Homo sapiens: one gene and its partners. The protein of the gene in region 5 purifies or fractionates together with the protein of the main gene of each other region. This does not show direct contact. Each region holds a gene or a part of one and is shown on either strand. Other genes may lie near its edges.

Region 1 (4,250 bases), on a different chromosome or scaffold from region 5:
TGGTACAAACTGGAGGTTTCTTATTTCTTTATGGCAAAAACAGGAAGAAAGATTAATTTTGCAGACTTGAATTTTAGAAATTGGCTTAGAATGCATTCACACTGTTAGTGTGGCAGCAAATGTGAGGTATTTCCTGTAATCGAGACTGGATGATCCAGGCCAGTGGCTCTCAGTGGAGGCATTTAAACCATCTAGCATGTATTCTGGATCACCATAATATTAATATTAATATGGCAAAATATTAATGCCATAATATTAATGTTTAAGGACATTTTAGCGGGTGAAGGGCAGGGAAGTTAAGGTCCTGCAATATTCAGACCAGTCCCACACAGTAAAGAACTATTCCACAGCATTTGAATATCTTCTCAGATAGTCACGGAGGTTTAAAAAAGAAAAAGCAAACAAACAAAAGAAGCTCAGCCTAAAATCTAACTCCAATTTCTTTATTTTTTTTGAGATGAAGTCTTGCTCTGTCACCCATGCTGCAGTGGCTCGATCTCGGCTCACTGCAAACTTCGCCTCCTGGGTTCAAGTGATTCTCCTGCCTCAGCCTCCTGAGTAGTTGTGACTACAGGAGCCTGCCACCACACCTGGCTAATTTTTGTATTTTCAGTAGAGACAAGGTTTCACCATGTTGGCCAGGCTAGTCTCAAACTCCTGACGTCTGGTGTTCCACCCGCCTCGGCCTCCCAAACTCCTGGGATTACAGGAGTAAGCTACTGCGCCCAGCTCAAATTCTATGTAAATACTGTACAAAGTATTTTTTGCACGATTTAACATATACTGAATTCGGAGGTACCCAACTACCATGTAAACTGAGAGAAGAATTATACTCTTTTTATTAACAGAACTTTACCAGAGGCCAAGGCGGGCGGATCACAAGGCCAGGAGATCGAGATCACCCTGGCTAACACGGTGAAACCCCATCTCTACTAAAAATACAAAAAATTAGCCGGGCGTGGTGGTGGGCACCTGTAGTACCACCTACTCGGAAGGCTGAGGCAGGAGAATGGCGTGAACCCGGGAGGCGGAGCTTGCAGTGAGCTGAGATCACTCCACTGCACTCCAGCCTGGGTGACAGAGCAAGACTCCGTCTCAGGAAAAAAAAAAAAAAATAGAACTTTACCAAGAGTTAGTCAGTATTTTGGAAAAATCACATCACCGACAGCAACACGGCTCATGATTTGAATTGCCAATACATCACTTCCACCAGTCTGCATATGTACCTATCCCATTCATCGGAGTTCTACATACTTATTAAACATTTATTTCAAAATGTCAAACATAAAGAAGTGTTCTAATGCATGTATGACCAAGCATTAACAAACTGAAATATGTATATTCTTCTAGTATATATATGCATAAACATTTACAATTTGAAATACACATATTCTTTTATAAATCATCCTTTAATTTCTGTACATTAAAGTTAGGAAGTTATATTGCTTTACTTTTTTAATGGTGGTGGGTTAGATTATCTTTGCATTTCAATTCAGGGTAACAAAGTTGGCATCTGTAATATAGGTGGATGCTGGTCTGTTAGGGTTGGAAAATACTCGTCTCAGCCACGTGGTTACCTGGTCGTAACTGAATACCACCACAAAGCTAGTGTAATGCGTCAATGTAGTTGAGGTGGAAATAAGGAAAGACTGTTCAGCCTAGTTTCTAGCATGATACTAGCATCTAATATCAGACATATGATGTCTGTCCTGTCACAGAAGTTTCTGGAAGTCAACATGAAAAAGGCATCACACAGCTCTCCAGGGGTAACAGTCTAGGAGGCCAGCAGCAATGACAAGGAAAGCAGTGATCTCACAAGCATGAGCCCATTGGAAGAACTGTAACACAAAGGAATGCTGATTCCTAGAAAAAAAGCTAACAGCTTTTTTCCCTTTTCTTCCCACCTCACTCCAACTCTAAAGAGAAGGTATGGTGTCAGGGACTGGTCTGGGAGAGGACGTTTTATTAGGCTAAAGTTACATCAAATTTGCCTCTCGAAGGACTTGTGTCTCTTGGATGCATCAGCCTACCATGCCTGGAAGCCCAAACTAAGGCTTGGCCTGGCACCCATCTCCACTTGGGAAAAGGCCCAGGCACCAGGTTCTGACCCTCTCTTTGGATGCCCCTGTGTTCCTGAGGCTGGTTGGTCCCTGGCAAACATCAGGCCAACTCTCTCATTGGCTTCGCTAGGTGGATGGGGAGATGGAGCCGAAGCCCAACAAGCAATAGAGTGTTGCTCTGCAGGCCACTGCCCTCTGTGTGTACATATCCCTCAGGGTCTCAGTGGGTAGGAGTTGCTGGTTACCTCCACATTCCCAATGGTAATTTCTACTCCTTCTGTCAATTAACCTGATCAAACAATCATGTCCCTCTCCATGCCATTCCCAGCGGGGGAAGGTCACTTTGCAATCAAATTGAGAAACAAAGTGCACTAGAAATGCTCCCCAGTGGACCTCTTCCCCATGGCACCACCCAGAGTAACAGCAGGAGACCTTGGCCTGCCTCAATCTAAGGACCACATTGGCCTTGCCCTGCCTCAACCTCTCTATTCCCCATATTCTCTCTCAGCACAAAGGTACTTCCCATTCTCTGTAAAATGGCTCTTTCTATGTTCTGGGTTTTTTGTTTTATTGACTGTGAAAAAACACACCTAATCTTTCCTAAATTTACCATCTTAACCATTCTGAAGTATATAGTTCAGCAGTTTTTTGTTTGTTTGTTTTTTCTTTTCAGACAGGGTCTCTGTCGCCAGGCTGGAGTGCGGTGGCGCAATCTCGGCTCACTGCAACCTCCGCCTCCCAGGTTCAAGCGATTCTCCCACCTCCACTTCCCAAGTAGCTGGGAGTACAAGCATGTGCCACCAAGCCCGGCTAATTTTTGTATTTTTAGTAGAGATGAGGTTTCACCATGTTGGCCAAGCTGGTCTCAAACTCCTAGCCTCAAGTGATCCACCCACCTCAGCCTCCCAAAGTGCTGGGATTACAGGTGTTAGCCACCGCACCTGGCCTAGTTCAGCAGTATTAAATATACTCACACTGTTAGGCAATCAATCTGCAGAACTGTTTTCATCTTGCAAAACTGAAACTCTATACCTATTAAGCAGCAACGCTCCATTCCCCACCTCCCCCAGGCCCTGGCAACCACCACCCTTCTATTTTCTGTCTCTACGAATTCGACTACTCTACGTACCTCATGCTTGCATAAGTGAAATCATACAGTATTTGTCTTTTTGTGTCTGCCTTATTTTCGTTTGGCATAATGTCCTCAAGATTCATCCATGTGTAGCATGTATCAGAATTACCTTCCTATTTAAGATTGAATAATATTCCATTGTATGTATATACCATATCTTATCTACTCATCTGCCGATGGATACTTGGGCTATTTCCACCTTTTGGCTATTGTGAATAGCGCTGCTAGGAAGATAGGTGTGCAACTATCTCTGAGATCTGGTTTTCCATTCTTTTGGGCATATACCCAGAAGTGGAATTGCTAGATCATATGGCAGTTTTTTTTTTTTTTTTTTTTTGAAAGAGTCTCACTCTGTTGCCAACGCTGGAGTGCAGTGGCCCGATCTCTGCTCGCTGCAACTCCGCCTCCCAGGTTCAAGTGATTCTCCTGCCTCAGCCTCCCAAGTAGTTGGGATTACAGGCGCACACCATCACGCCCGGCTAATTTTTGTATTTTTAGTAGAGATGAGGTTTCACCATGTTGGCCAGGCTAGTCTCGAACTCCTGACCTCAAGTGATCCACCCTTCTCAGCCTCCCAAAGTGCTGGGATTACAGGCGTGGGCCACCACACACAGCCATCATATGGCAATTTTATGCTTAAATTTTTGAGGAACTACCATACTGTTTTTCATGGTGACTGCATCATTTTACATTCCCACCATCAGTGTGGAAGGGTTCCAATAACTTCCCATTCTCACCAATACTTGTCATTTGTATTCTGGGCCTTACATTTATCATTCTTTATCCATTCCATGAACTAGAATAATAAACACTTTTATTTTAAATGAATTCCTATTTTCTTTCTTTTTTTTTTTTTGAGATGGAGTTTTGCTCTTGTTGCCCAGGCTGGAGTGAGATGGCGCGATCTTGGCACACAGCAAGCTCCGCCTCCCAGGTTCAAGCGATTCTCCTGCCTCAGCCTCTCATGTAGCTGGGATTACAGGAATGCGCCACCACGCCTGGCTAATTTTGTATTTTTAGTAGAGACGGGGTTTCTCCATGTTGGTCAGGGTGGTCTT
Region 2 (4,250 bases), on a different chromosome or scaffold from region 5:
AACTGAATCAATAATATAGCTAAATGGGAACAAATATTATTTGGGCTAATGTGACTTATGGGGATAGCACTAGAAACTAGATGTCTTGGGTTCGTATATTCCTCTCCCACTAACGTATTTAGTATTTAGTAAACAAACATATTTAGTAAATGAACGTTATTTGTTTGGCTATTAATGCATAATTCATTTAACTCCTTTGTTTCTGCATTTCTAAAACAAGAAACTGGTTCAGAACACTGGTTCTCAAACCTGATCAAGCATTAGAATCATGCAGAAGTTCTAACTTAGAAGACTAGGGTGATTTCTCATAATCTGTATTTTAATAAGTTATTCTGATGTGCTAATTTAGGGGTTGAAAACTAATGTCAGAGAACTTCCAAATTCTAAAGTGCTATCACTCTAAAGTGCTAAGCTGTATAATACCAAGTGCAAATGCAGTTCAGAAAGGGAAGTTTACTGAGGGTTAGGAATGTTAGAGAAGGTTTCTGAAGAAGCTGAAGTATATTTACGTGGACACAAAGTGGGTGCACTGGGGAAGTATACGAACCAGAGGAGATCTGAAGAAGGTATAGTGGATGATGGGGGCTGATGGGTGACAGACTGCTGAACAGCAGCTGGAGACAAGATATAAGAGGACACTGTGATGAAACCATGCAGTGACTGCTCAGTGGAAGAAATGGGGGAAAAAAGGAGGATAACACTCCGAAACAAGTAAATACAGATTTTTGCCTGTAAGAGTACCCTTTCCTGATATGAAACAGTAAGTCTTTGAGGAGGGGGATATGGAGAAGGAGACATTTCATAGGCAAAGACATCCTAGTTTGGACAATAAATGACATGATGTCACCTTAATTATAAACTTTCCAGCCCCTATAAAAACTTAGCCAAAAAGAAAGAAAAAAGTGAAATGATCTATGTAGGACAATTTAGTCAGAGAAAGACAGTTACAGCTTTTAGAAAGGCAAAACTACCCAGGGTTGAACACCAGGGTTGTACCTAGACTCCTTAGTAGTGATGACAGATGAGAGCTGATTGGCTGCTAGCCAGGCCCAGGCTTCTGCTTGTGCTGCCTCTCCTCCAAATTGCAATTTGATGCATCTGGAATGAAAATGGTTCCACACTTGAAAACTGAACGCTGAAACGTACCACTTTAATTTGATACTAAAACTAGAGAGATAGATGACAACTTCATCTCTAGTCTTTTGCTGAATTCACTACTGGAATATTGGCTCATCTCTTCCTCAAGTTACACAACTGGATACCTACAAGAACATGAGTAAGCATTAAGAGACAATTTACTTCCAAGATAAAATTAATGATGAAAAATTCTTTTTTCTTTTCTTTTTTTTTGAGATGGAGTCTTGCTCTGTCACCCAGGCTGCAGTGCAGTGGTGCAATCTCAGCTCACTGCAACCTCTGCCTCCCAGGTTCAAGTGATTCTCCTGTCTCAGCCTCCTGAGTAGCTGGGACTACAGGCCCATGCCACCATGCCTGGCTAATTTTTTGTATATTTAGTAGAGACGGGGTTTCACTGTGTTAGCCAGGATGGTCTTGATCTCCTGACCTCATGATCCGCCCGCCTAGGTCTCCCAAAGTCCTGGGATAACAGGTATGAGCCACCGCACCTGGCCTCTTTTTTTTTTTAAATTAAGATGGAGTCTCGCTCTGTTGCCCAGGCTGGAGTGCAGTGGCGCAATCTCAACTCATTGTAACCTCCGTCTCCCAGGCTCAAGCGATTCTCCTGCCTTAGCCACCCAAGTAGCTGGGATTACAGGCACACGCCACCTCTCCTGGCTAACTTTTGTATTTTTAGTAGAGATGGGGTTTCGTCATGTTGGCCGGGCAGGTCTTGAACTCCTGACCTCAAGTGATCTGCCCACCTTGGCCTCCCAACGTGATGGCATTACAGGCGTAAGCCACTGCACCTGGCTGAAAAATTCTGAAAGTTCAAAATTATTTCTAATTCACAAACTTTTTTTTTTTTTTTTTTTGAAACAGAGTCTTGCTTTGTTGCCCAGGCTCGAGTGCAGAGGCGCGATCTCAGCTCACTGCAACCTCTGCCTCCCAAGTTCAAGAGATTCTTGTGCCTAAGCCTCCTGAGAGGCTGAAATTACTGTTGTGTGCCACACCCTCATTTTTGTATTTTTAGTAGAGACAGGGTTTCACCATGTTGGCCAGGCTGGTCCCAAGCGATCCACCCGCCACAGCCTCCCAAAGTATTAGTAGGATTACAGATGTGAGCCACTGTGCCTGGCCAAGAAATTCTTCTTCTTTTTTTTGAGACAGAGTCTCGCTCTGTCGCCCAGGCTGGAGTGCAGTGGCGCGATCTCGGCTCATTGCAAGCTCTGCCTCCCAGGTTCACGCCATTCTCCTGCCTCAGCCTCCCGAGTAGCTGGGACTACAGGCGCCCGCCACCACGCCCGACTAATTTTTTTTGTATTATTTTTAGTAGAGACGGGGTTTCACCTTGTTAGCCAGGATGGTCTTGATCTCCTGGCCTCGTGATCCGCCCGCCTCGGCCTCCCAAAGTGCTGGGATTACAGGCGTGAGCCACTGCGCTCAGCCTGAAATTCTTTTTAAGAATGCTTGGATGGATTAAACAAAACACTTCTTCAAATCATAAATGATATATGGGCTACTTGGCTTATGACGACTGTTTCACACTGAGCAAGAGGATAATATATTTGCATTAGAAAAGACTATAAAAAAATAATTTTATACATACTTGAAGGCAAGCCCTTCAAAGACTGGCGTTAAGGGAAGCTTAAAAGTCTGACAGAGTGATATGGCAGTGTCAAAGAGGCCCGCCTGAACCAAGAGAGTGACCATTTCCTCTGCTGATGAACTTCCTGTGAAAATGGAAAAAGATTATTTCGTGTAGCCAAGGTATACACAAATGAAACCAAAGATTTTGTTTTGTTGATGAGTATCTCTGAGTAATAACCCAGGCTTTATACCCATCTACCATGCTACATACACTGCCTGGACCTAAAATGTGCTCGTGGTGCTGACAAGTCAGAGGCTTTAAACTCTTGAATTCCTACCAGCAACTGCAACCGCTGATGGATCATGCTGAGCCAAAGTGAGGCGGATGCGAGCCAAGGAACACTCTTTCTCCAGATCTTCCAGTTCCAGGATTTCAATTTGTCGATTTGCTATACATCAAAGAAAAATATTTTGAACTCCCAAAATACAAAGAAGTATCCATCAGATTAACGCAACCTGTCAATTTCCACTGAACATTAAGTAACATTCAATCTAATTTCCAAATGCATGAAGGAAGGAGAAAATAGGGCACTAAATAAATGCTAACTTAAACAAATTATGCAATATCCCATGTCAAATCAAAGTATTTTAACCGACTGCAGTTGAGGAGGTGCTTACAAGGTACTACATGTAATTTCATTTAACTCTTTAAACTTTTTTTTTTTTTTTTAAGGAAACAAATCTCAATCTGTCACCCAGGCTGGAGTGCAGTGGCATGATCTCGGCTCACTGCAACCTCCGCCTCTTGGGTTCATGTGATTCTCCTGCCTCAGCCTTCCGAGTAGCTGGGATTACAGGCGTGCACCACCATGCCCAGCTAATTTTTGTATTTTTAGTAGACACGGGGTTTTACCATGTTGGCCAGGCTGTTCTTAAACTCCTGACCTCAGGTGATCCAGCCACCTCAGCCTCCCAACGTGCTGGGATTACAGGCATCAGCCACTGTGCCCAGCCTAAAAAATTTTTTTTCTACAGGGTCTTGCTATGTTGCCCAGGCTGGTCTTGAACTCCTGAGCTCAAATGACCCTCCTGCCTTGGCCTCCCAAAATGCTGGGATTACAAGGCATGAGCCACTGCACCTGGCCTCATTTAACTATTATAATTGTGAAATACTGTCTGTCATCTCTATCAATAAGAAAGAAATATGACCAAACTGTGAGAGGCAGAAATAAAACCAGGTGTGTCCAAATCTAGAGCCTCGGCTCTTTATGGAAGGATATCATGCCTCTGTGGAAATAGCAAAAGAACTTGATAAAAAAAAAGCTTGGAACTAAGCTGATTTAAATACAACATTCAAGAAAAAAACCACATTCTTATTTAAGCATTTTCATTTCTCTTACTGTTGTACAACATTTTCGAAGTGCTACCAGACAACCTTTAGCAGATTAGAATGCTGAAAATAAACTAAAAAGAAGGAACTTTACAATATTTTTACAGCAATGTAATTATTATATATAATATATAGTATATAACGTTACTACTAT
Region 3 (4,250 bases), on a different chromosome or scaffold from region 5:
AAAGGCCCCTGTACTTCCCATGAAGTGAAGCAGCTCCTGCCCTCCCTGAACAGATCCTGGCGTCCACTCGCAGACAGAGGTGTCTTCCGAGAGGCAGCCCCACCCCGCGGAGCCCCAGCAGGCCTCGCCCACTGCACTGGTAGCTATGAGGGGCCGGGCGGCAGAACTCAGGCTCAGAGTGCACGCCGGGTCCACAAGCAGCCCCCGCCACCTCCGCCCCAGCCAGGAGAGCAGACAGCCTACCTCGCCGCATGGCTTCCTGCTTCTGCACGGACTCCTCCTGCTTCCGTAAATTCTCCTCATTGAGAAGTTGCTGAGAAGAAGCCGCAGAAAAAGAGAAAAGCCTTTAAAACCTGTGACTGTGCCCATGTGTGCGGGGGATGACTGTGCCCGAGTGTGCAGGGGGGTGAGTGTGCCCGTTTGCGGGGTGTGACGGTGCCCGTTTGCGGGGGGTGACGGTGCCCGAATGTGCAGGCGGGTGACTGTGCCCATGTGTGTGGGGGTGATTGTGCCCATGTGTGGGTGGGTTGTGCACCCGTTTGGGTGTGTGTGTGTGTGTGTGTGTGTACCCGTGCGGGGGGTGGGGGGGTTGTGCGTGCCTGTGGGGGGGGGTGTGTACGCCCGTGTGTGGGTGTGTGCCCATGTGCGGGTGTGTGTGTGTGTCCCTGTGACGGGAAGGCGTGTGTGCCCGTATGTGTGTGTGGGGTCTGTGCGCCCATGTGGGGGGGTTGTGTGCGTGCCCATGTGTGCGGGGGGGCTGTGCCCATGTGTATAGGGGGGTGTACGCGCGCCCATGTGTGTGGGTGTGTGTGTGTCCGTCTATGGGGGGGCATGCCCATGTGTGTGTGGGTGTGCGCCTGTGTGTGTGGGGCTGTGTGTGTGCCCGAGTGCGCGGGTGCCAGTGAGCCTGTGGGGGGTATGTGTGCGCCTGTGTGTGTGTGGGGGGGTACGTACCTGTGTGTGGTGTGTGTGTGCGTATCTGTGTGTGTGTGTGCGGGGTGTATGTGCGTACCTGTCTGTATGGGGGTGTGTTTACAGGTGTGAGTGTCCATGTGGGTGTGTGCCTGCCCGTGTTGTGTGGGGGTATGTTTGCGGGTGTGTGAGTGCAGGCCTCTGTGTGGGGGTGTCTGTGTGTGGGCCCGTGTGTGCAGGGGTGTGTGTGTGCCCGTGTGTGCAGAAGTGGGTGCACCTGTCTGTGTGTGCTGGGAGTGTGTGTGCGAGGAGTGTGTGTCCGTGTGGGTAGGTGCCTGTGTCTCCATGTACATGTGTGCACACGTCTGCATGTGTGCCTGTACACGTGTGCTGGTGCGTGTCTGTCCGAGTAGTTTCCCCTGCTCTAGCACCCACCGTCAGCAACCCCAGCGTTCTTGCCCCGTGGCCTCTGACCCACTGACTGGTCCCACAAAGCCACCTACGTTCTCAGGGACGCAGGCGCCTCGCAGGGGAGGCTGAGCTCACCTGCTGCTTCAGTTGGTCCTCGTAGCGCTGCCGGGCCAGCTTGTCTTGATACTGGGCCCTCTGGGGGAGAAGAGGGCGGCAAAGACACATCTCAGCCGGGAGCTGCAGTCTGGGCCGACTGGGCGGAGCGCCGGGGACTCCGACGCGCCATCAGCCTCACACAAACGTGGGGAGGCGCGGGGACCTCCCGTCCGGCTCAGCAGTGAGGGACCTTACAGGTCTTAGGCGTTTGTGCAAGGCCGTTCCGAGGGCAGCTCTAATGGCTGACTCCAGAGTGCCCCGGGACCACACCCAGCTCCCAGTCCTGCCCCAGGCCGCTCCCCGCAGCCGGGCGGCCTCCCTCGCGGCCTCTTGCGCTCTTACGGCCTGGTGCTGCCGGGTCTCCTCGCTCAGGGTCTTCCTCCTCTCCTCAGCCTGCGCCCGGATCTGCTCGCTCTTGAGCTGCTCCACGGCGGCCTCATACTCCTGCAGAGCACAGCACTCACCAGCTGGCACTTGCTCAGGGCTGGCACTGCCTGACAGCCGCTCCTGTGTCTGCACGGCTCCGGCACGGCAGAGACTCCATGCCCAGACTAGTGTGTGCAGCAGGCTCAGGGCTTCCAGCCGCATCTGCACCCAGGATCAGGCCCTGGAGGAATCCAGACCCACAGGCACAGAAGCACCAGCAGAAGCCCGCGAAGGCCCCCCGGGAGGGAGGCCGGACACCCCCTTTTGGACTGCACTGAGGGCAGAGCTCATGCTTATTTTAGGAATCCTGCTGAGTGGACCGGGTGCGACGGCTCTCGCTTATAATCCCAGCACTTTGGGAGGCCAAAGTGGGTGGATCAACTGAGGTTAGTAGTTCGAGACCAGCCTGAACAACATGGTGAAACCCCATCTCTACTAAAAATACAAAAATTAGCCAGATGTGGTGGCGGGCTCTTGTAGTCCCAGCTGCTCGGAGGCTGAGGAAAGAGGTTGAACCCGGGAGGTAGAGGTTGCGGTGAGCTGAGATCACGCCACTGCACACCGGCCTGGAAGACAGACTAAGACTCTGTCTATAAAAAAATAATAATATGAAACAAGGCAGGCACAGTGGCACAAGCCTGTAATCCCAGCACTTTGGGAGGCCGAGGCAGGTGGATCACTTGAAGTCAGGAGTTCAAGACCAGGCTGGCCAACATGGTGAAACCCCGACTCTACTAAAAATATAAAAATTAGCCAGGTGTGGTGGCGGGTGCCTGTAATCCCAGCTATTCAGGAGGCTGAGGCAGGAGAATTGCTTGAACCCAGGAGCGGAGGTTGCAGTGAGCCCAGATGGCACCACAGAACTCCAGCCTGGGAAACAGAGACTCCGTTTCAAAATAAATAAATAAAACGAAATAAAACAAAAAAATCCTGCTGAGTGTAATGAAATGAGAAGATCCAGGCCATCCGGACGACCAGACGCCCTCACCAACACCGGCCCTCCCTCCGGACGACCAGACGCCCTCACCAACACCAGCCCTCCCTCTCGGGCGGCTCTGCGGCAGCGTCTCTCACCTCCCTTTGTTTCCTTCTGTGAAATGAGGCGCCCAAGCTTGGCCCTGGGCCCCACTGCTGCCCATGTACACACCCCCGGCCCTACCCACCGGCAGTAGCCCTACCAATCTCCATGCCCGAACCCCATGTGCGCCCCGGCCTCCCCACCCACACCGGCCCCACTCACTTTGAGCTTGGACTGTTGCTCCAACTGCAGCGTCTGCTCCTGCATCTGTGCCAGATTCAGGGCGTCCTTGGCATAACCTGCAGACGCAAGGACACGGAGGGCAGGTGTTAGGATACACGGATGCCGCTGGGCAGGCACGCACACCAGCCAAGGGGCTTTCTGGAATCCACGGCCACGCCTCGACCTCAAAGCCCCCAGCCCTGCCTCCCCATCCTCCTTCCTAGTCAGACCTGGCGTGACGATGCACCATCCCCAGCACACGGCCTGATGCATTTGTGAGGTTTTATCCCCCCAGGGATGGTCTTGGAGAGCCACATCAGGAAGGCCATCCCACGTGGACGGGAGGAGGCTCTTTCCCAATTCAACAGAAAGTCAGGCGATGGCTAAAGTGTCCTCTATTTTTTCACGTTACATTCGCTTTTCCTAAGCTTCCAATGGCTGTTGTCATTGATCTGCTATCAAGCACATGCAGGCAAGAAAGGGAATGAATAAGAATAGGATACCAGCCAACAAGCTCAGGGTGACGAGGACAAGCATCTGACAACGTCCTCAGTTACGTTTTGTTCCTAGAGGGGAACTGACACAGGTCGATGTTTGGGTGTCGTGGGACAGAAGTACGTATTCTCTGAGCTGCTGAGGCCTCAGCATCAGGTCTCAAAATTTTCTGGGATGACAGTTTTCCCATCATAAAACTTTACCATAAAAATCTTTTGGCTGGGCGCGGTGGCTCACTACTGTACTCCCAGCACTTTGAGAGGCTGAGACGGGTGGATCACTTGAGTCCAGGAGTTAGAGACCGGCCTGACCAATGTGGTGAAACCCCATCTCTACTAAATATACAAAAATTAGCTGGGCGCAGTGGCGGACGCCTGTAATCCCAGCTACTCTGAGGCTGAGGTGGGAGGATGGCTTGAACCCCGGAGACAGAGGCTGCAGTGAACCCAGATCGCACCGCTGCACTCCAGCTAGACAGAGAGAGACTTAAAAAAGAAAAATCTCCATCCGGGCCAACATGGCGAAACCCTGTCTCCACTAAAAAGACAAAAAAAGAGCAGGGCACAGTGGTGCACGCCTGTGATCTCAGCTACTTGGGAGGCCAAGGCTG
Region 4 (4,250 bases), on a different chromosome or scaffold from region 5:
ACTTCCTCGTTCTGCCCATCTTCCTAACAAGGCTATGGCTGATAACAGCAGTGATGAGTGTGAAGAGGAAAATAACAAGGTACAGTAAAACTCACAGCTTCTTGTAGAATTTCTGCTTTGGGTTTTTAGTAGTTAGAGATGACACCAGTTCAACGGTAAACATTTCTTGAACACTCACCTCCAGGGGTTAGGGACCTTTGAGCTCATGGAGGAAAATCAGTTACAAAGAGCCTTGAGATTTTGACCCTTCTTCAGGAATAAAGCCTACTACTACAATTGACTTTGGTGAGGAATTTCACATAATGTAGGCCAGTGTTTCACAAACTTTCCTGATCATAATACTCAACTGAGGTACTTATTTTTAAATATACGGATTCCCAGTCCCAGCCCAGAATCTCAAAAGTAAAAGCCTGGGAATTTATATTTTTTAGGAAGCAGTCCAGGTAATTTTATGCTAAAGCGAGTTTGAAATTATCAGTCTAGGCATTTTTTCATTGTCAATACTTGTGATACTGCCAGTATTTTGTGAAGGAGATTTTAATTTTGAGGTCTTAAGACCCAGATGTTGGCTGCTGTTATTCTGTGTACCTAGAGAATCACCCTGCTTCTGAAAGAAACATGGCAAGAGGCCCACCTCTCTAGAAACATATAGGACCTTAGAGTTGCACATATGATTTCTTAAAAACCGTTTATGTTGGCCGGGTGTGGTGGCGCACTCCTGTAATCCCAGCACTTTGGGAGGCCGAGGCGGGCGGATCACCTGAGGTCAGGAGTTTGAGACCAGACTGTCCAACATGGCGAAACCCCATCTCTAATAAAAATACAAAAAATTAGCTGGGCGTGGTGGCGGGTGCCTGTAATCCCAGCTACTTGGGAGGCCTCCCAAGGTGCTGGGATTACAGGCACAAGCCACTGTGCCCAGCCTGTTTTTTTTGTTTGTTTTTTTTTTTTGAGACAGAGTCTTGCTCTTTCACCCAGGCTGGAGTGCAGTGATCTTGACTCACTGCAACCTCTGCCTCTTGGGTTCAAGCAATTCTCATGCCTCAGCCTCCCGAGTAGCTGGGGGATCACAGGCCTGCACCAACTCGCCTGGCTAATTTTTGTATTTTTAGTAGAGATGGGGTTTTGCCATGTTGGCCACACTGGTCTTGAACTCCTGACCTCAGGTGATCCTCCTGCCTTGGCCTTCCAAAGTGCTGGGATTACAGGTGTGAGCCACTGTACCCAGCCTGATGGCTGCATTTTAATGGTTTTTGTTTTTGTTTTGAGACAGAGTCATCTCGCTCTGTTGCCTAAGCTGGAGTGTAGTGGCATGACCTCAGCTCGCTGCAACCTCCGCCTCCAGGGTTCAAGCAATTCTCCTGCCTCAGCCTCCTGAGTAGCTGGGATTACAGGCGTGCGCCACCACGCCTGGCTAATTTTTGTATTTTTGGTAGAGATGGGGTTTCACCATGTTGGTCAGGCTGGTCTCGAACTCCTGACCACATGATCCGCCTGCTTCGGTCTCCCAAAGTGCTGGGATTACAGGCATGAGCCACCACCCCGGGCTGACAATATTCTTAAAAGTTCCCTCTGCCAAAACTGCTTCCTATGTGACTAAGGATAATTTTGGCAAATCTTGAATTGAGAAAGAATGCTCTAGAAAGTTCTTATCAGTCATATACTAATAAGGCATAGTCACTGAATAAATTCTGCAACTGTGTTTCATTATCTGCCATGCATATTACAGCTTAGTTAGAATATACTTTATGTATAATAAATTTGTTATTCTTAGAGCAAAATGTGACTAAAAGCAGTTTTTGGTGTCCTGTAACGTGTCACAATTTTGTGTGCCAATAGCTGCTTTACCATAAAAACAAATTAATTTTAAACAACTGGAATCAAACGTGTTAACCTCAGTATAAGCCATACGGTATATAGAAACCAAGTTTTGAAAACCTACTTTTAAAGGGGGCCAATTGGTCATCCTTCAGGTCCTAAGGGAGGGCATGCCACAGGCTCCAGGCCACAGAGGCAAAGACATGGACCCTGTTCCACCTGCCCCTGCAAGTCTCAAGTGCCACCAGACCCCTTCTCATGTACTTGAGAGGGTGGGATGGTACAGAGAGAGCCAGAAGCACAGAAAGGTAGGTTATAATGTCAAGAACAAAAGAGCTGTTTATCTTGAGAGAGAATGTGTAGTCATTTTATGTAATTTATGGGGTAAGGGAAGGGAAATACAGATAGGTCAGATACTCCATGAAGAGAAATATCACTGAACAAAAATGGAAAGTCCATAGTCCCTGGGACTGCTGGTTTGATGGGCACAAGGTTGATTTTGAACTTTCTTCTTTTGATAGTTTCAAGCAGCTTATGCTGGGCAGTCTTGCAAATTAAGTATTAGATTTCCTCTCTATGGTCTTTGTGAGTATTAAGACCCCTAAAATTTCTATTCCCACTTCATATTCCCTGATTTTCTTCCAAAATAACTAGAGTTGCCATCCTCTTCTTTGAAAGTCCATAGCTTTTCGGGCCGAAGCTGTCTAAAGTGTACACAGGGCCCTGAAGATCTAAGTAATATGTACAATAGATAAAATTAGAATTTATACCCCAGCCTCAAGTAGAGAAATGGAATAGGGTTCTAGAAAGTGGAGTCCCCATTTGTAGCTGAGCAGGGGCAGAAGAAGGCTCTCAAGCCCCTTCTGGGAAGTGCCCCCTTCTCTTTCTGGTGACGAGGTGCCAGGTGGTTGGTGTATTGGTTAGAGCAATAGAGAACTGGGCATAGGTACATTTGATTTTTTTACTTGAAGCTTTCTATGCCTGCCCTGCCCTATCACAGGAGAAGAAGAAGACCTCACAGTTGACACCTCAACGGGGCTTTAGTGAAAATGAGGATGACGATGATGATGATGATGATTCATCTGAAACTGATTCTGATTCTGATGATGATGATGAAGAGCATGGAGCCCCTCTGGAAGGGTGAGGAAAGAACACCCAAGCCAAGGGTGCTCTTCAGAATACCTCCTTCAAAACACTGGAGTGGGAGGACGTCAGTTAGAAGTGAAATTCCAGCATCTCTTTTGATCTCCTGTATTTAGGATTTTCAGATGTCTCAGAAACCCAACATAATAATGAGTTTTCCTCCCTTTCTGACTCCACTACCTTATCCAGTCCTATAGTATCACTTTACTATCTGAAACGTTTGTGGGCTTGGGGGTTACATGAGATTTTGCTGAGTAAATCAAAAAGGTGGTGGCCAGGCATGGTGGCTCAAGCCTGTAATCCTAGCATTTTGGGAGGCTGAGGTAGGAGGATTGCTTAAGGCTGGGCGTTCAAGACCAACCTGGGCAACATAGCAAGACCTCGTCTCTACAAAATTTTATTTTTTTTTTGAGACAGAGTCTTGCTCTATCGCCCAGGCTGGAGTGCAGTGGCGTGATCTCGGCTCACTGCAAGCTCCGCCTCCTGGGTTCACGCCATTCTCCTGCCTCAGCCTCCTGAGTAGCTGGGACTACAGGTGCCCGCCACCACGCCCAGCTAATTTTTTTTGTATTTTTAATAGAGACGAGGTTTCACCGTGTTAGCCAGGATGGTCTCGATCTCCTGACCTCGTGATCCGCTCGCCTCGGCCTCCCAAAGTGCTGGGATTACAGGCGTGAGCCACTGCACCCGGCCGCCCAAAAATTTTTTAAAAATTAGCTGAGCATGCTGGTGTGTGCCCATAGTCCCGGCTGCTCGGGAGGCTGAGGCAGGAGAATCACTTGAGCTCAGGAGTTTGAGACTGCAATGAGCTATGATCGGGTCACTGCACTCCAACCTGGTCAACAGAGTGAGACCCTGTCTCAAAAATAAATTAATTAAATTTAAAAAATAATAATAACACTGCTAAAAACACTTCTATAATTTTTTTTTTCTGGTGCAAACTATTTTCATGTCAGATATTTAAATCTCTTTTTTTTTTTGAGACAGAGTCTTGCTTTGTCACCCAGGCTGGAGTGCAGTGGTGCGATCTTGGCTCACTGCAACCTCTGCCTTCCAGGTTCAAGTGATTCTTCTGCCTCAGCCTCCTGAGTAGCTGCGACTACAGGTGTGCACCACCACACCTGGCTAATTTTTGTATTTTCAGTAGAGATAGGGTTTCAACCATGTTGGCCAGGCTGGTCTTGAACTCCTGACCTCAGGTGATCCGCCTGCCTCGGCCTCCAAAAGTGCTGGGATTACAGGTGTGAGCCACCACGCCCAGCCCTAAAATCTCTTGTTCTACCTTTTCT
Region 5 (4,250 bases):
ATCACACAAACAAACTCCTCACAGGTATTTGCCACACACTAGTTAAGAATCCTTGCTAGTGGAAATAGTAATATTCTTGCTCCAATCTGGTACATACCACACATATTTGCTGGGGAGATGAGAAGGCACATATTTGTACTTGATGATTACTTGAAGAGGGGAGAAGCAGAATGTTTTCACAGCTCAGAAATCTCAAATCCAGTGCACTTTGGGAGAAAAGGTGGCTCTAATCACTCATTTTATTCTCACCCTGCCTTCTAGGCTATTGTCACTCCAGTTCCTAGCTTAAAACTGTACGGGACATTTCCAGTATAGAGCCTGCTGAGAATGAACATGAAATCAAGGACATTACCTGATGATGGATTATGTAGATGGCGAAGGTGTGGTGGCACGGAGACCTCTTGGTGACCAGGCCGGACACTGAGCAATCTGTCCAGCAGCTTATCAGAAGAAGACACAGTCCAAACTTTGTAGGAAAATACCTGATTAGAATCACTCTTCCAGGGGTTATCTAGTAACATCTGGCAGCCAGTTCTGTTATTTAATAAATCCTGCTCACTTCGACTTTTCTGAGATCGCTGGGCCATATGATGAGGAGCAGAGCTCAGGCCTGCATGGGAAGTGGCCCTATGGGAGGCTGTTAGGAAGTTATTGCCCAGGGTGATGGGTGGGAGACTCTGCGTTCTGATTGGTGGAAGCCCCTTACGGGCCAGCGGTTTCTTTTCTGGTAAGAGATATTTTGAATTGTCTGAGGTTTTCTTCTTAAATTCAACCATAGCCACCTGATCACCAGGCTGTTCTTGGCAGTTGGTACCCACGATGCTATCAAAGGTGGTGATGATGTCATTGACTTCTGAGGTGTCCTCCTCTCTGTATCGGTCCCTGCTGGGATCCTTCTGATGGGCTCTCTGCTCTTCTTTCTTGTTTTTGCAGAATATTTGGTTGAGCACGTTGAACCGTCTCTCCTTCTTCTGGGGCCGACTGCTCTGGGAGGGAGGGGGTCGAGTAGGCTCTGTTCTATGCGAATATAAAAGAGCAGGGATGATATGTGAGTATGGGAAGTAGAGACATCACTCACCGAAATACCGACCCCCTATTCCACATGCTTCATCAGGTTTTCTGAGATCCTTCCTAGATACCTCCAAAGCCTTCTCAAGTTAAAGGCAGTGTGAAGAACTCACAGTACCCCTGGCAATCCCGCCCAGAAGAGGCTCTTTACCATGGGCAGTCTTTGCCCAAGGAGGACGTTTCTTAGATTTTTCTTGCTCCTTCAGGGGATATCCTTTCAAAATTTACACCTAGATCATCTGTTTTCAACAAGAGGTTAACTAAACTGAAAATTAGCTGAAAGTGTTGTTCTCACATCTCAAGGACAGTCAGTAGGCACGCAAGTTGAAGTCAGAGATGAAGCCTAAGGGTTTGAGTTCAGGCTTCAATGAGCAGAAGGATGGAGGAGGTTGCTGAGGTGGGGGGAATGTGGTTTTAGGCTTTCTCTGACAGAGATCCTAGAAAACCTGGACCGAGTGCTGACCGACTGACATTATCCCCCTCAGAGACCCCTCCCCATTTTAAACTAAAACTTTCCTATCGAAAAGTACTTTTAAAAAAAGTATGCTGAAGAACAGGTACGGTGGCTAATGCCTATAATTCCAGAACTTTGGGAGGCTGAGGCAGGAGGATCACTTGATGTCAAGAGTTTGAGACCAGCCTGGGCAACATGGCAGGATCTCATCTCTAGCAAAAAAAAAAAAAAAAAACAACCAAGGAAAGAAGCTTTAGTCTGGGCTCCAGCGAGGGAAGAGGAGGAGTGCATGACCAAGGTCGGGCGTGGCTGCAGAAGAAAGTGAGCAATGCCCAATGCGCAGGCAAATTATAAAGGAAAAAGGCCAGCAGTTGTCGAGAGGTTCCCTGAGGCAAGATTCTGTTTGTGTTCCTTAGAAAATTCTGTGTGATTCTCTTTTGAGGCTCCAATTGACTTAATGCTTTCTGCGGTATGAATTAACGATGAAACCTGACCCGTGTGTGTGCCCCTGAGTCAGATTGCAACACTACTTTCTGGAGTGAGATATCGCAATCTGCAATTTGAAAAACATCACCACTTATTTTGGATGCATATAATGAATGTTTTCTCTACAGGTCACACAGTGCATCCTTTGAATTTTTATTCCATGATGTAGTCTTATCTTTATTCTTTCACCTTCCAATGGGCTTTTTGAAATACTGAATTCTAGACTCCTAATACCACCAGAGAGAGAGCCCCAGGGCACTTCCGACGCTCAAGTTTCCCTATAAAGAATATGTCTGTGTGAATTGATGCTATTGCAGCATCTTGTGTAAGCCATCTCCTCCTCCTGTTACAGCTTGTGCTTTAGGCCTCTGGGTCTCAAAATGGGGTCCACTGAACCCTTGGAGAGGGATCCCCGACTTTTTAAGGGGTTTATGGCATTAAACTCTATTCATAATAACATCACAACGTTATTTGTCTTTTTCACTGTGCTGCCTTGCATCGATGGTGCAATAGAGGTGGTGGGTAAAATGGTGGCTGCCTCAGTACAAATCAGGACAATAGTGGCATCAATGTACTTGCAGAAAAAAAAAGTCCTTTAACTTAATAATGTCCTTGTTTAGGGAGTACAAGTTATTAATTTGATTAAATATTAACTTGAGTACACTTGTTTGACAAAATAAGAAGCACTCGTAAGCAATTCTACTATATACGGAGGTGTGATGATTGTCTTGGGGTAAAGCAGCTGTGCAATTGTTTGAGTCGCGGGCTGAACCGGACACTTTTTTCACGGAACACCATTTTTATGCCTTGCAGACAAACTGTGGTTATGTAGAGCTAAGTATTTGCAGAAATTTCTGCAAAATAAATAAAGTGAAATACACAGAAACAGAGAGTAAAACAGTGATTACCAGAAGTGAGGGTGAGGTGGGGGAATGGGAGGTGTAGGTCGAAGGGTACAAAGTTGCAGTTGAGTTCAAGTATTTCTCGTGCTTCAGCCTCCCAAGTGTCTGGGATTACAGGTGCATGCCACCACGCCCAGCTAATTTTGGTATTTTCAGTAGAGATGGGGTTTTGCCATCTTGGCTAGGCTAGTCTTGAACTCCTGGGCTCAAGTGATCCACCCACCTTGGCTTCCCAAAGTGTGGAGGTTACAGGCGTGAGTCACTGCGCTCGACCCATCTGACTAGGTATATTTATATCAAAATATGTATACTATATATATATATATATATATATATATATACAATAAAAATATATTAAAATGAATAAAGTGGGCCAGGCGTGGTGGCTCACGCCTGTAATCCCAGCACTTTGGGAGGCCGAGGCGGGTGGATTACCTGAGGTTGGGAATTAGAGACTAGCCTGACCAACATGGAGAAAACCTGTCTCTACTAAAAATACAAAATTAGCCAGGGGTAGTAGCACATGCCTGTAATCCCAGCCACTCTGGAGGCCGAGACAGGAGAATCACTTGAACCTGGGAGGCAGAGGTTTCGGTGAGCCGAGATCGTGCCATTGTACTCCAGCCTGGGCAACAAGAGCGAAACTCCATCTCAAAATAAATAAACAAATAAATAAAATAAAACGAATACAGTGAATATTTCATTTCAAGATAAATAACTGACAGTTATTGTAGCCAATGACAAAAGTCTAGCTTTCAAGCAAAAACTAGAATTTTGGAAAACTTATATTCACATTGTAAGCTTGACACCATCTCAGTATATAAAGCTTGTCCAATAGATTGGTGGTGATGTTAACAAATGTGACTTTTTGATATTGTATAATGAAATGTGTCATCTGGAAGATCTTTATAATTAAGTGAACCAATATTTTCCAAATGACCAATGCAAGGTGTTAATAAAATCACGCATGTGTATAAGACCCATTTAAAGTATAAGGTATAGTAATGTATTCTAATGTGACAGAGTACAAAAAATTCATTGATATGGTGAGAATCCACATTGCAATTAACCTTTAAGAAACTGCTGCTTGTTAAGTTTTGGTATCGTATCAAAGAAAAATACACACAATTATCTGAAAAGCCTATTGAGATACACCTGCCTTTTCCAACTACGTATTTATATAAGGCTGGATCGTTTTTATATACATCAATCAAAACATGATACTGTGGCTGGGTATGATGGCTCACACTTCTAATCCCAGCACTTCAGGAGGCTAAGGTGGGAGGACTGCTTGAGGCCAGGAGTTTGAGACCAGCCTGGGTAGCATAGTGAGGCCATCT
Region 6 (4,012 bases), on a different chromosome or scaffold from region 5:
GAGCTTCTCCAGTCGTGTGGTGTCTTTATCTGAATACCGCCAGAGCCTACACACTTACCTGCGCTCCAAGATGAGCCAAGTAGCCCCCAGCCTGTCAGCCCTAATTGGGGAAGCGGTGCGTCACAGGGGACTCAAAAATGGGAGAATAAGGACTGTTGCCATGTGCACCTGCACTGCTGTATTTCGTGACCCACCATGTCTTCCCTAGTTGTGCTTGATGGGGAGGTGGGGAGCAGGGCTGTCGTGCAACTGGGCAGGTCAGCAGTTCATTTCTCTGACTGCTTCCTTGACTCTCTCTCCAGGTAGGTGCACGTCTCATCGCACATGCTGGCAGCCTCACCAACCTGGCCAAGTATCCAGCATCCACAGTGCAGATCCTTGGGGCTGAAAAGGCCCTGTTCAGGTACCAGTGAGGGCACCTGCCCACAATCAGGTGCCACTTCTGGTGCCCACTGCTTGTTGGGGGATCACGGTGATGGCTGACCAGGGCTCCCTGACCTATACAGGCCTCTGCTATGGGGGTGATGGCCAGTCCTGGTGTCTGAGTGATTCCCAGGGCCCAGCAAAGGGACCAAGTTTCCAGGTCAGCGACATTGGATGCCTTCCCTCTGCCTCTGGGAGCTATGGGTTGGCATGCATTGGGGTAGAGATCCAATCTGGCCTGAGGCTCACTCAGGACTTCGGGGTGAGAGGAGGGGAGGAGCTGAGCTGCCTTGGCTAATGGGGTTGAAATTTCTGATCTTAAACTCTCCACTGAATATTCTCTCAGAGCCCTGAAGACAAGGGGTAACACTCCAAAATATGGACTCATTTTCCACTCCACCTTCATTGGCCGAGCAGCTGCCAAGAACAAAGGCCGCATCTCCCGATACCTGGCAAACAAATGCAGTATTGCCTCACGAATCGATTGCTTCTCTGGTATGGGTGGGGGGGCGTTGGCAGGTGTGAGAAGGGGCTGGGTGGCTGGGTGGGGAGGCTTGCAACCATAGCTTCCACAATGATGGCAATATTTTTCGTCAACAGCAGTTCACCTAGTGAGTGTTGAGACTCTGGGTCTGAGTGAAGCTGAGGGTAGAGGGAACACAGGGTTGGGGTAGTTTCTCTCTTTGGGCTGACAGGCTTTGTCACCCACACACATCCAGAGGTGCCCACGAGTGTATTCGGGGAGAAGCTTCGAGAACAAGTTGAAGAGCGACTGTCCTTCTATGAGACTGGAGAGATACCACGAAAGAATCTGGATGTCATGAAGGAAGCAATGGTTCAGGTCAGTTGGGCTTTGCTGGGTGTGGAGTGGCATAGCTAGCTGTTGGAGGTGATGAACTGTCTGAGCCTGACCTTGTAGAATGGAGGCAAAAAAACTGATTTAATGAGCCTGATCCAATAAAGCCAGAAAGGAGTCCTCAGAGCACCAGAAGTCTTCAGGCCCTTTTAGCACTTTTCTTTGACCAGGCAGAGGAAGCGGCTGCTGAGATTACTAGGAAGCTGGAGAAACAGGAGAAGAAACGCTTAAAGAAGGAAAAGAAACGGCTGGCTGCACTTGCCCTCGCGTCTTCAGAAAACAGCAGTAGTACTCCAGAGGAGTGTGAGGTCAGTAGGCAGCACGGCCCTGGCAGAGATCCTAGGTTGTAGGATTTTCAACAGCAGAACAAAGGATATGCTGCATCAAGCTGTGGTCTTGAGTCCAGGCTTTTGGACTGAAACAAGGACCTGAAACATCTAAAACTACCTCTTGATTCTATAGGAAGGAGATAGGTGCTGAACTTGCTCAAGAGCCCAGAGAGCTGGTTGTAGCTCACACCCGTTCCCTGGGCATGTGTGTTCTGTCCTCGGCTGCCTCCCAGGAGTCCTCAACCTGGGGTAGTGTAAATTCCTGCTCTGCTTATTATCAGACGTGTGTCCGGAGGTGGTCGTGTTTCACAGTGGGGATGGGGGCAGGGAGGTCCCCAATGTGCTAAGCTACAATCATTCTCCCTGAGATTTTCATTTAGCACCCAGTTTCTTAAACAGTGTTTCAGGGCCCTGTCTGGAACTTGGCATGATGGTTCTGTTGCGACCAGCATGGTGGGTGTTTTTTAGGTTTTTTTTTTTAATGGGCTGAGGTAATTTCTCATGACATGTTTTCCTTCTAATTTGGGACAGCCTTTGGGGTGGATTTCTAAAGTTATACCCACACAATTAAACTATCCCAGAAACACTGGGCAATGTTAACGACACGCGTTCCCCTGCCTTGGCTACTTAATTGCTGAAGATGTAATGAGCACTGTTCTCACAGCCTGTTCCCCTGTCCTTCCCTTTAGGAGATGAGTGAAAAACCCAAAAAGAAGAAAAAGCAAAAGCCCCAGGAGGTTCCTCAGGAGAATGGAATGGAAGACCCATCTATCTCTTTCTCCAAACCCAAGAAAAAGAAATCTTTTTCCAAGGAGGAGTTGATGAGTAGCGATCTTGAAGAGACCGCTGGCAGCACCAGTATTCCCAAGAGGAAGAAGTCTACACCCAAGGAGGAAACAGTTAATGACCCTGAGGAGGCAGGCCACAGAAGTGGCTCCAAGAAAAAGAGGAAATTCTCCAAAGAGGAGCCGGTCAGCAGTGGGCCTGAAGAGGCGGTTGGCAAGAGCAGCTCCAAGAAGAAGAAAAAGTTCCATAAAGCATCCCAGGAAGATTAGAATGCAAATGGACATTCTCTGGGAGGTGGGGCATACCATAGCCCAAGGTGACATTTCCCACCCTGTGCCGTGTTCCCCAATAAAAACAAATTCACAAGAGTTGGTTCATGTTCTTTATTGAACACCTTACATGGGTATGGACAGGGCCTATGGGTGGGGCAAGGCAGCAATGACAGCCTCAGTGAAGTCATGGCAAGTAGCATAGCCACCCATGTCAGAGGTTCGAACCTGTGGGGGAGAATCATCATCATCCATGTGGCCTGGGCTCCATCCTAACAATCCCCATCACCACCCAACAGTCTGTCCCCTAAGGAAGCCGGCCCAAGGACAACCTAGGCTCTACCCAGCAAGGTGACCATGGTCCACTGCTTAGAGGCACAAGGTCTCTTCCCTGGTACACTGCACTGAAGGGTATGGGGAGTGTGGTCCTTGCAAGGTTGGAAGAAATAAAGGGCTCTAGCTCCCTTTAGTCTGCAGGTGACCGATGACAGACTTGATGAAGTCGGTTGTGGTGCTGTAGCCGCCCATGTCTCGAGTCCGCACCTACAGCCACCACCGGCAACAGCCGTGGGGAGGGAGAAAAGAGAGCCCATGAAGGGAGGTAGGGCAATGTGATTGAGGAAATGGAAGCCAAGAATGCGTGACAGCCAGAAAAAAGGCAATGCACAGGAATGGAAGGAGGAGCCAGGATGGGAAGCACATGGACCTGCCACTCCTCTTAAGCCACTATTAGCTGTGCTGCAGCCAGGGCAGGACAGGAGGCTGAGCAGGCAAAGATGATGGGAAACGCAGATCAGAGGCAGGATGTGGCTACCTTCCTTGGAAGAAATAGAGACAAGACCAGGTGGAAGGAAAGAATCACAGCGAAAAGGAGATGGGGCGTGAAGGTGAAGCTGATGCTTCAGCCTGCCTGTATCCCTTGCTGTTCCACCCCCAAGGAGAGCTGCAAGTTCTGCATTCAGATGGCCCATGAAAAGGGCAGTGGATGGAGCAGGAAAGAGGGAACAGCAGATGGGATCTAAGAGGCAAAAGAGATCAAGAGGATGAAACAGCCAAGAGAAGGGAGATGAAGAACAGCCCTGAGAGGGATGCAGGGATGTCAGGGAGCAGATGTTCTGGGGACCTGGGGGGAAAGGAGACCCCCATTCAGGTTCCCCAGAGGGTAGTGCCGAGGTGCTGACACCAGAACTACTCTAAATCCTGAAGCCAGCACTACTCTTCTCAACTCACCTTGCCAACTTTGATCACCTTCTTCACCGCATCTGCGATCATGCTGGAGTGATACTCAAGACTGTGGATATGGACAGGAAGAAACTGTGACTCCCCCAAGACACCTCCCGCTAATTTCC
Region 7 (4,250 bases), on a different chromosome or scaffold from region 5:
TAATAACAACTGTAAATAATGGAAATAATTCTTAGTAGCAGCAATCCCCAAAAAACTCAATTATTATTGCAAGAAAACATGATGGCACCTTGCTTATTGCAGGCTATTAAGAATGATGGTGTATTCTTCAGACCCATACTGTCAATGAGGACTTGATACAGAAACTCAGCCACATCTTTCACCTCTCGCTGGAATGCTGCACTATCCACAACAAACACAATAGCCCTGGAGGGAGAAAACAAGAAAAACTGGCATGTGAACGTGTAACAGGACATCATTATCTTGAAAAACTATCCTGAACTTCTTCAAAGTCAATCTTGGTGATTAACACTCAGCAGACACACATGCAGGTCTGTGCATATGTTATCATATAACATAAATCCTCATTTAACAAGGAACTATTGAGTGCTACTGTGTATCAATGACTGAAGCTGAAAAAAGACAGTAAGAAATGATGCCTGTCCTCCAAGACAAATCATCATATAGAGAACCATATGATAAATGCCAAGACAAAACTATGCACATGTGTAACAGGAATAAAGAGAAAGATCATTTAAATGAGACCAGGTCAAAGGCAACTTTAAGGAGAATGTAACAGTTGAGTTGAATCTTAGCTAGACCAAAAATTGGGGCACAGGCTGTCTGGAAAGTACAGGTTGAGTATCCCCAATCCAAAAATCCAAAGTCTAAAATCCAAAACACTTCTGGTTCCAAGCATTTTGGATAAGGGATACTCAGCCTACAGTATGTTCAAGCCACAAATACGTGAAACACATTCCCTGGGGAAGTCAAGGTAAGCTGGTACACAGGGAGATGGGGAAATGAAGGAGAACCAAGTCAGACAGTGAGGCGTGACACAATGACCTGTGGAGTTCATGCTTTTCTGTCTTATGAAGAATATTGGTGCCTAAATGGAAGACAAAGCAATCTTAGAGGGCGCTTGAACTAGAAGCACAGTGACCAGGTAGGGCCTGAACTAAGGCAGCCATAGTGGGACTCCTCATGTGACAGAAACAAAGAGATATCAAAGCTAAAGTGCAGCAGCCCAGGGAAACTGCAGACAACAGGTCTTAGGGGGCCGGGTGCGGTGGCTCACGCCTGTAATCCCAGCACTTTGGGGGGCCGAGACAGGCAGATCACTTGAGGTCAGGAGTTCGAGACAAGTCTGGGCAACATGATGAAACCCAATCTCTACTAAAAATATAACAATTAGCCAGATATGGTGGCGGGAGCCTGTAATCCCAGCTACTTGAGAGTCTGAGGCAGAAGAGTTACTTGAACCCAGAAGGCGAAGGTTGCAGTGAACTGAGATCATGCCACTGCACTCCAGCCTGGGTGACAAAGCGAAACTCCATCTCAAAGAAAACAAAAAAACAAAAAAACCGGCCAGGCGCGGTGGCTCACGCCTGTAATCCCAGCACTTTGGGAAGCCGAGGCGGGCGGATCACGAGGTCAGGAGATCGAGACCATCCTGGCTAACACGGCGAAACCCTGTCTCTCCTAAAAATACAAAAAATTAGCTTGGTGTGATGGCGGGTGCCTGTTGTCCCAGCTACTCAGGGGACTGAGGCAGGAGAATGGCGTAAACCTGGGAGGCAGAGCTTGCAGCGAGCCAAGATCGCGCCACTGCACTCCAGCCTGGGCAACAGAGCGAGACTCCGTCTCAAAAAAAAAAAAAAAAATACAAGCCTTATGGACAAGGGTTTGAATGCCCAGGTGGAGATAAGAGACATGCAATGGCCAACATGCAGCTGGGGAGCTAGAACTGAATGCCCTGCACAAAGCCTACAACTTAAAATAGTCTCAGGGAGGTCGGGGCTTGCAAAAAAAGTTCCCTTAGAAACAGCGGGCCTCCACTGCCTCACACAGATATAGGGTATGAATTTATACTCTCTCCAGGTGTAAGACCCCCAAGGGGAAAGGCTTACATAAAAATTGGGCCAGACTTATTGAAGCCCTATGGCCCCAACAGAAGGAACTATGAACCGCTTATGGAGCAAGGCTTTCATATCCTACGGGATTAAAGAACCACCACAATATCAATGATGTGTCACTCTTGAAGAAAGGTTCTGGAGCAAAAATTACAAGGCACAGAATAAAATAATTATGAGGGAGAATAACTGGTACCCCAAAGAGAATAATCAGCACCCCAAAACTAAGATAATAAAGCTATCTATAAAGTAAATGTTTAAAATTATTTAAGAAAATACTACAAACTACAATAAAAAATAGAATAGTATAAAAAGAAACAGGCTGGTTTGAAAAGGTAAGTATTTTAGACAAATATAGTAAATGATATTAATAAATCAATGGAAAAGTTAAGCAGAGATCATGCTCAGCTGAAAATAATGTAATAAACTAGAAAACAAATCTGAGGGAATCTTACAATATGCGAAGTAGAAAGATCTGGAAGATACGATAGAGAGGAAACAAGAAAGGCAAAAATAATAAGGTTCAATAACATTCATAAGAATTCCAGAGTGTGAGAAATGATCATGGGGAAACAGCACTACCTGGAGAAACGATGGTGAGAATTTTCCAAAACTGAGGAGAATCTTTGGTTTGGAATAGCACAACTGAATTCCAAGAATGATAAAGCTAAATCCATCCTTGAACAGAAGAAAATCTATCCCTGGATAGAAGGTCAAATCAGGCAGACTTACTACAGTGAAATGACAATTAGACTGACTGGCAAAAACATTCTCATCTGCAACAGATGGATGAGGTCAGGAGTGATGCGGCTGCCACCCAGGACTCTGCACTCAGCTAAAAGAGACATTCCAAAATGCTGGCCAAATAGAGTTACAAATGAACAAAGACTGAAAACATTTGACTACTCATCACCCTCTCTGGAAACACTTCTAAAAGATATACTCAGTGAGGGAAAACTGAATCTAAAGGGAAGAAGTAAAATTCAAGAAGCAATGGGGAGCAAAAGACCATAAGCATCCTGGTAATTCTCATCACTGAATGTAAGAGGAAAAAAAAGTATGGATGGGGGTTAAAAAGGAGCATAAATAAAAGGAAGATGTGAGGAAGATGAAAGTTAAAGTGTTTAAGGTTCAGGAAAAGGAAACTGATATTATTGGATTCAGACAATCAAATAGGCAATGTTTAAAAGATGGGGGAGGGGAACCATGATAAGAACAGCAACAGCATATGTTCAAATCAGGAGAGGGAAAATAGCCACTAGGGAAACTTGGCGAAGCCAGAAAGTAGGATTAAAAAAAAGTCACATACCAATATAGTAAATGTCTTTTCAACTTGCATGTTATCATGATTATAATTTATTTGAACTAAGTTTTATCTTCATATTTTGCATGTTTTATTTACCCAAAATACATGAATCACAGAGTAGTTATACTGCAAATCATAAAATATTTAGAACTGGCAATAGAAAAAGAAAAAACATTTAATTGGAAATAAAAACCCAATTATGGCAAAATTTACCAGCTCTAGATTTGTCTCAATTGTCCAAGGAATTTTCTTATCTGTGACAAATTGTTCATCACCACCATCTTGTGGGCAAAGATGCAATAATGAAATTTCAGTCTAGACATCTTCAATAAAAGGCAAAGAATCTACTACTTCATTCCATCAAAACTAAAATGCTGCCAATTAAAGACATTATTTTAGGGACCGCTAAGAGAAAATACTGCCAATTAAACTATGACACCATCAACTATAAGATATATTCTAAATTCAGAGATATTAAAATGTGTCTTCAAATCAGTGAAATGTGGCATACTGATTTTCCTCTTCAGTTCTTATTAATGTTAGAGACCAAAAAAGAAGCATCTGAAACTGCAGCATAAGACTTTTTAGGGAAGAACTTAAGAGTCAGTAACACCAGAGCACACACTAAAAGAAATATGGAAATATTGTTCTGTACTTCTTGAAACATCAATTTTACGTAATTTGAGAATATATATGGGCCAGGTGCAGTGGCTCACGCCTGTAATTCCAGCACTTTGGGAGGCTGAGGCCAGCGGATCATGAGGTCAGGAGTTCGAGACAAGCCTGGCCAACATGGTGAAACCCCATCTCTACTAAAATTATGAAAAATTAGCAGGGTGTGGTGGTGCGTGCCTGTAATCCCAGCTACTCAGGAGGCTGAGGCAGGAGAATCACTTGAACCCAGGAGGTGGAGGTTGCAGTGAGCCGAGATCACACCACTGCACTCCAGCCAGGACAACAGAGTGAGACTCCATCTCAAAAAAAAAAAACAAAAAAACACTATATATATAAAT

Evidence for each region.
Region 1: the proteins of ANKRD55 (region 5) and IFT52 purify together in Homo sapiens (affinity purification with mass spectrometry; 3 studies listed by BioGRID and IntAct, with this or other methods). This does not show direct contact.
Region 2: the proteins of ANKRD55 (region 5) and NUP160 purify together in Homo sapiens (affinity purification with mass spectrometry, with the first as the bait; one large-scale study listed by BioGRID). This does not show direct contact.
Region 3: the proteins of ANKRD55 (region 5) and ATAD3A purify together in Homo sapiens (affinity purification with mass spectrometry, with the first as the bait; one large-scale study listed by BioGRID). This does not show direct contact.
Region 4: the proteins of ANKRD55 (region 5) and IFT46 purify together in Homo sapiens (affinity purification with mass spectrometry; 3 studies listed by BioGRID and IntAct, with this or other methods). This does not show direct contact.
Region 6: the proteins of ANKRD55 (region 5) and NOP56 purify together in Homo sapiens (affinity purification with mass spectrometry, with the first as the bait; one large-scale study listed by BioGRID). This does not show direct contact.
Region 7: the proteins of ANKRD55 (region 5) and SRPRB purify together in Homo sapiens (affinity purification with mass spectrometry, with the first as the bait; one large-scale study listed by BioGRID). This does not show direct contact.

The regions. Positions count from the first base shown.
Region 1 is NC_000020.11:43,597,170-43,601,419, reverse strand, and holds part of IFT52 (intraflagellar transport protein 52 homolog), read right to left. Parts: intron 1-4,250. UniProt on the Homo sapiens protein: Involved in ciliogenesis as part of a complex involved in intraflagellar transport (IFT), the bi-directional movement of particles required for the assembly, maintenance and functioning of primary cilia. Required for the anterograde transport of IFT88.
Region 2 is NC_000011.10:47,785,457-47,789,706, forward strand, and holds part of NUP160 (nuclear pore complex protein Nup160), read right to left. Parts: intron 3,156-4,250; coding exon 3,045-3,155; intron 2,850-3,044; coding exon 2,726-2,849; intron 1,099-2,725; coding exon 997-1,098; intron 1-996. UniProt on the Homo sapiens protein: Functions as a component of the nuclear pore complex (NPC). Involved in poly(A)+ RNA transport.
Region 3 is NC_000001.11:1,514,984-1,519,233, reverse strand, and holds part of ATAD3A (ATPase family AAA domain-containing protein 3A), read right to left. Parts: intron 3,601-4,250; exon of another isoform or gene 3,419-3,600; coding exon of another isoform or gene 3,376-3,418; intron 3,223-3,375; coding exon 3,146-3,222; intron 2,068-3,145; coding exon of another isoform or gene 1,924-2,067; coding exon 1,822-1,923; intron 1,519-1,821; coding exon 1,459-1,518; intron 314-1,458; coding exon 244-313; intron 1-243. UniProt on the Homo sapiens protein: Essential for mitochondrial network organization, mitochondrial metabolism and cell growth at organism and cellular level. May play an important role in mitochondrial protein synthesis. May also participate in mitochondrial DNA replication.
Region 4 is NC_000011.10:118,555,614-118,559,863, reverse strand, and holds part of IFT46 (intraflagellar transport protein 46 homolog), read left to right. Parts: 5' UTR 1-34; coding exon 35-79; intron 80-1,973; coding exon of another isoform or gene 1,974-2,126; intron 2,127-2,818; coding exon 2,819-2,958; intron 2,959-4,250. UniProt on the Homo sapiens protein: Forms part of a complex involved in intraflagellar transport (IFT), the bi-directional movement of particles required for the assembly, maintenance and functioning of primary cilia. May play a role in chondrocyte maturation and skeletogenesis.
Region 5 is NC_000005.10:56,110,766-56,115,015, forward strand, and holds part of ANKRD55 (ankyrin repeat domain-containing protein 55), read right to left. Parts: intron 1,018-4,250; coding exon 353-1,017; intron 1-352.
Region 6 is NC_000020.11:2,655,632-2,659,643, forward strand, and holds the end of NOP56 (nucleolar protein 56), read left to right. Parts: coding exon 1-115; intron 116-302; coding exon 303-403; exon of another isoform or gene 404-583; intron 584-769; coding exon 770-918; intron 919-992; exon of another isoform or gene 993-1,063; intron 1,064-1,142; coding exon 1,143-1,264; intron 1,265-1,307; exon of another isoform or gene 1,308-1,379; intron 1,380-1,449; coding exon 1,450-1,587; intron 1,588-1,741; exon of another isoform or gene 1,742-1,857; intron 1,858-2,297; coding exon 2,298-2,663; 3' UTR 2,664-2,762; downstream 2,763-4,012. Other genes in the region: IDH3B (isocitrate dehydrogenase [NAD] subunit beta, mitochondrial isoform e precursor), read right to left, coding at 2,878-2,891, 3,128-3,206, 3,894-3,954. UniProt on the Homo sapiens protein: Involved in the early to middle stages of 60S ribosomal subunit biogenesis. Required for the biogenesis of box C/D snoRNAs such U3, U8 and U14 snoRNAs. Part of the small subunit (SSU) processome, first precursor of the small eukaryotic ribosomal subunit.
Region 7 is NC_000003.12:133,811,565-133,815,814, reverse strand, and holds part of SRPRB (signal recognition particle receptor subunit beta), read right to left. Parts: intron 226-4,250; coding exon 89-225; intron 1-88. UniProt on the Homo sapiens protein: Component of the signal recognition particle (SRP) complex receptor (SR). Ensures, in conjunction with the SRP complex, the correct targeting of the nascent secretory proteins to the endoplasmic reticulum membrane system.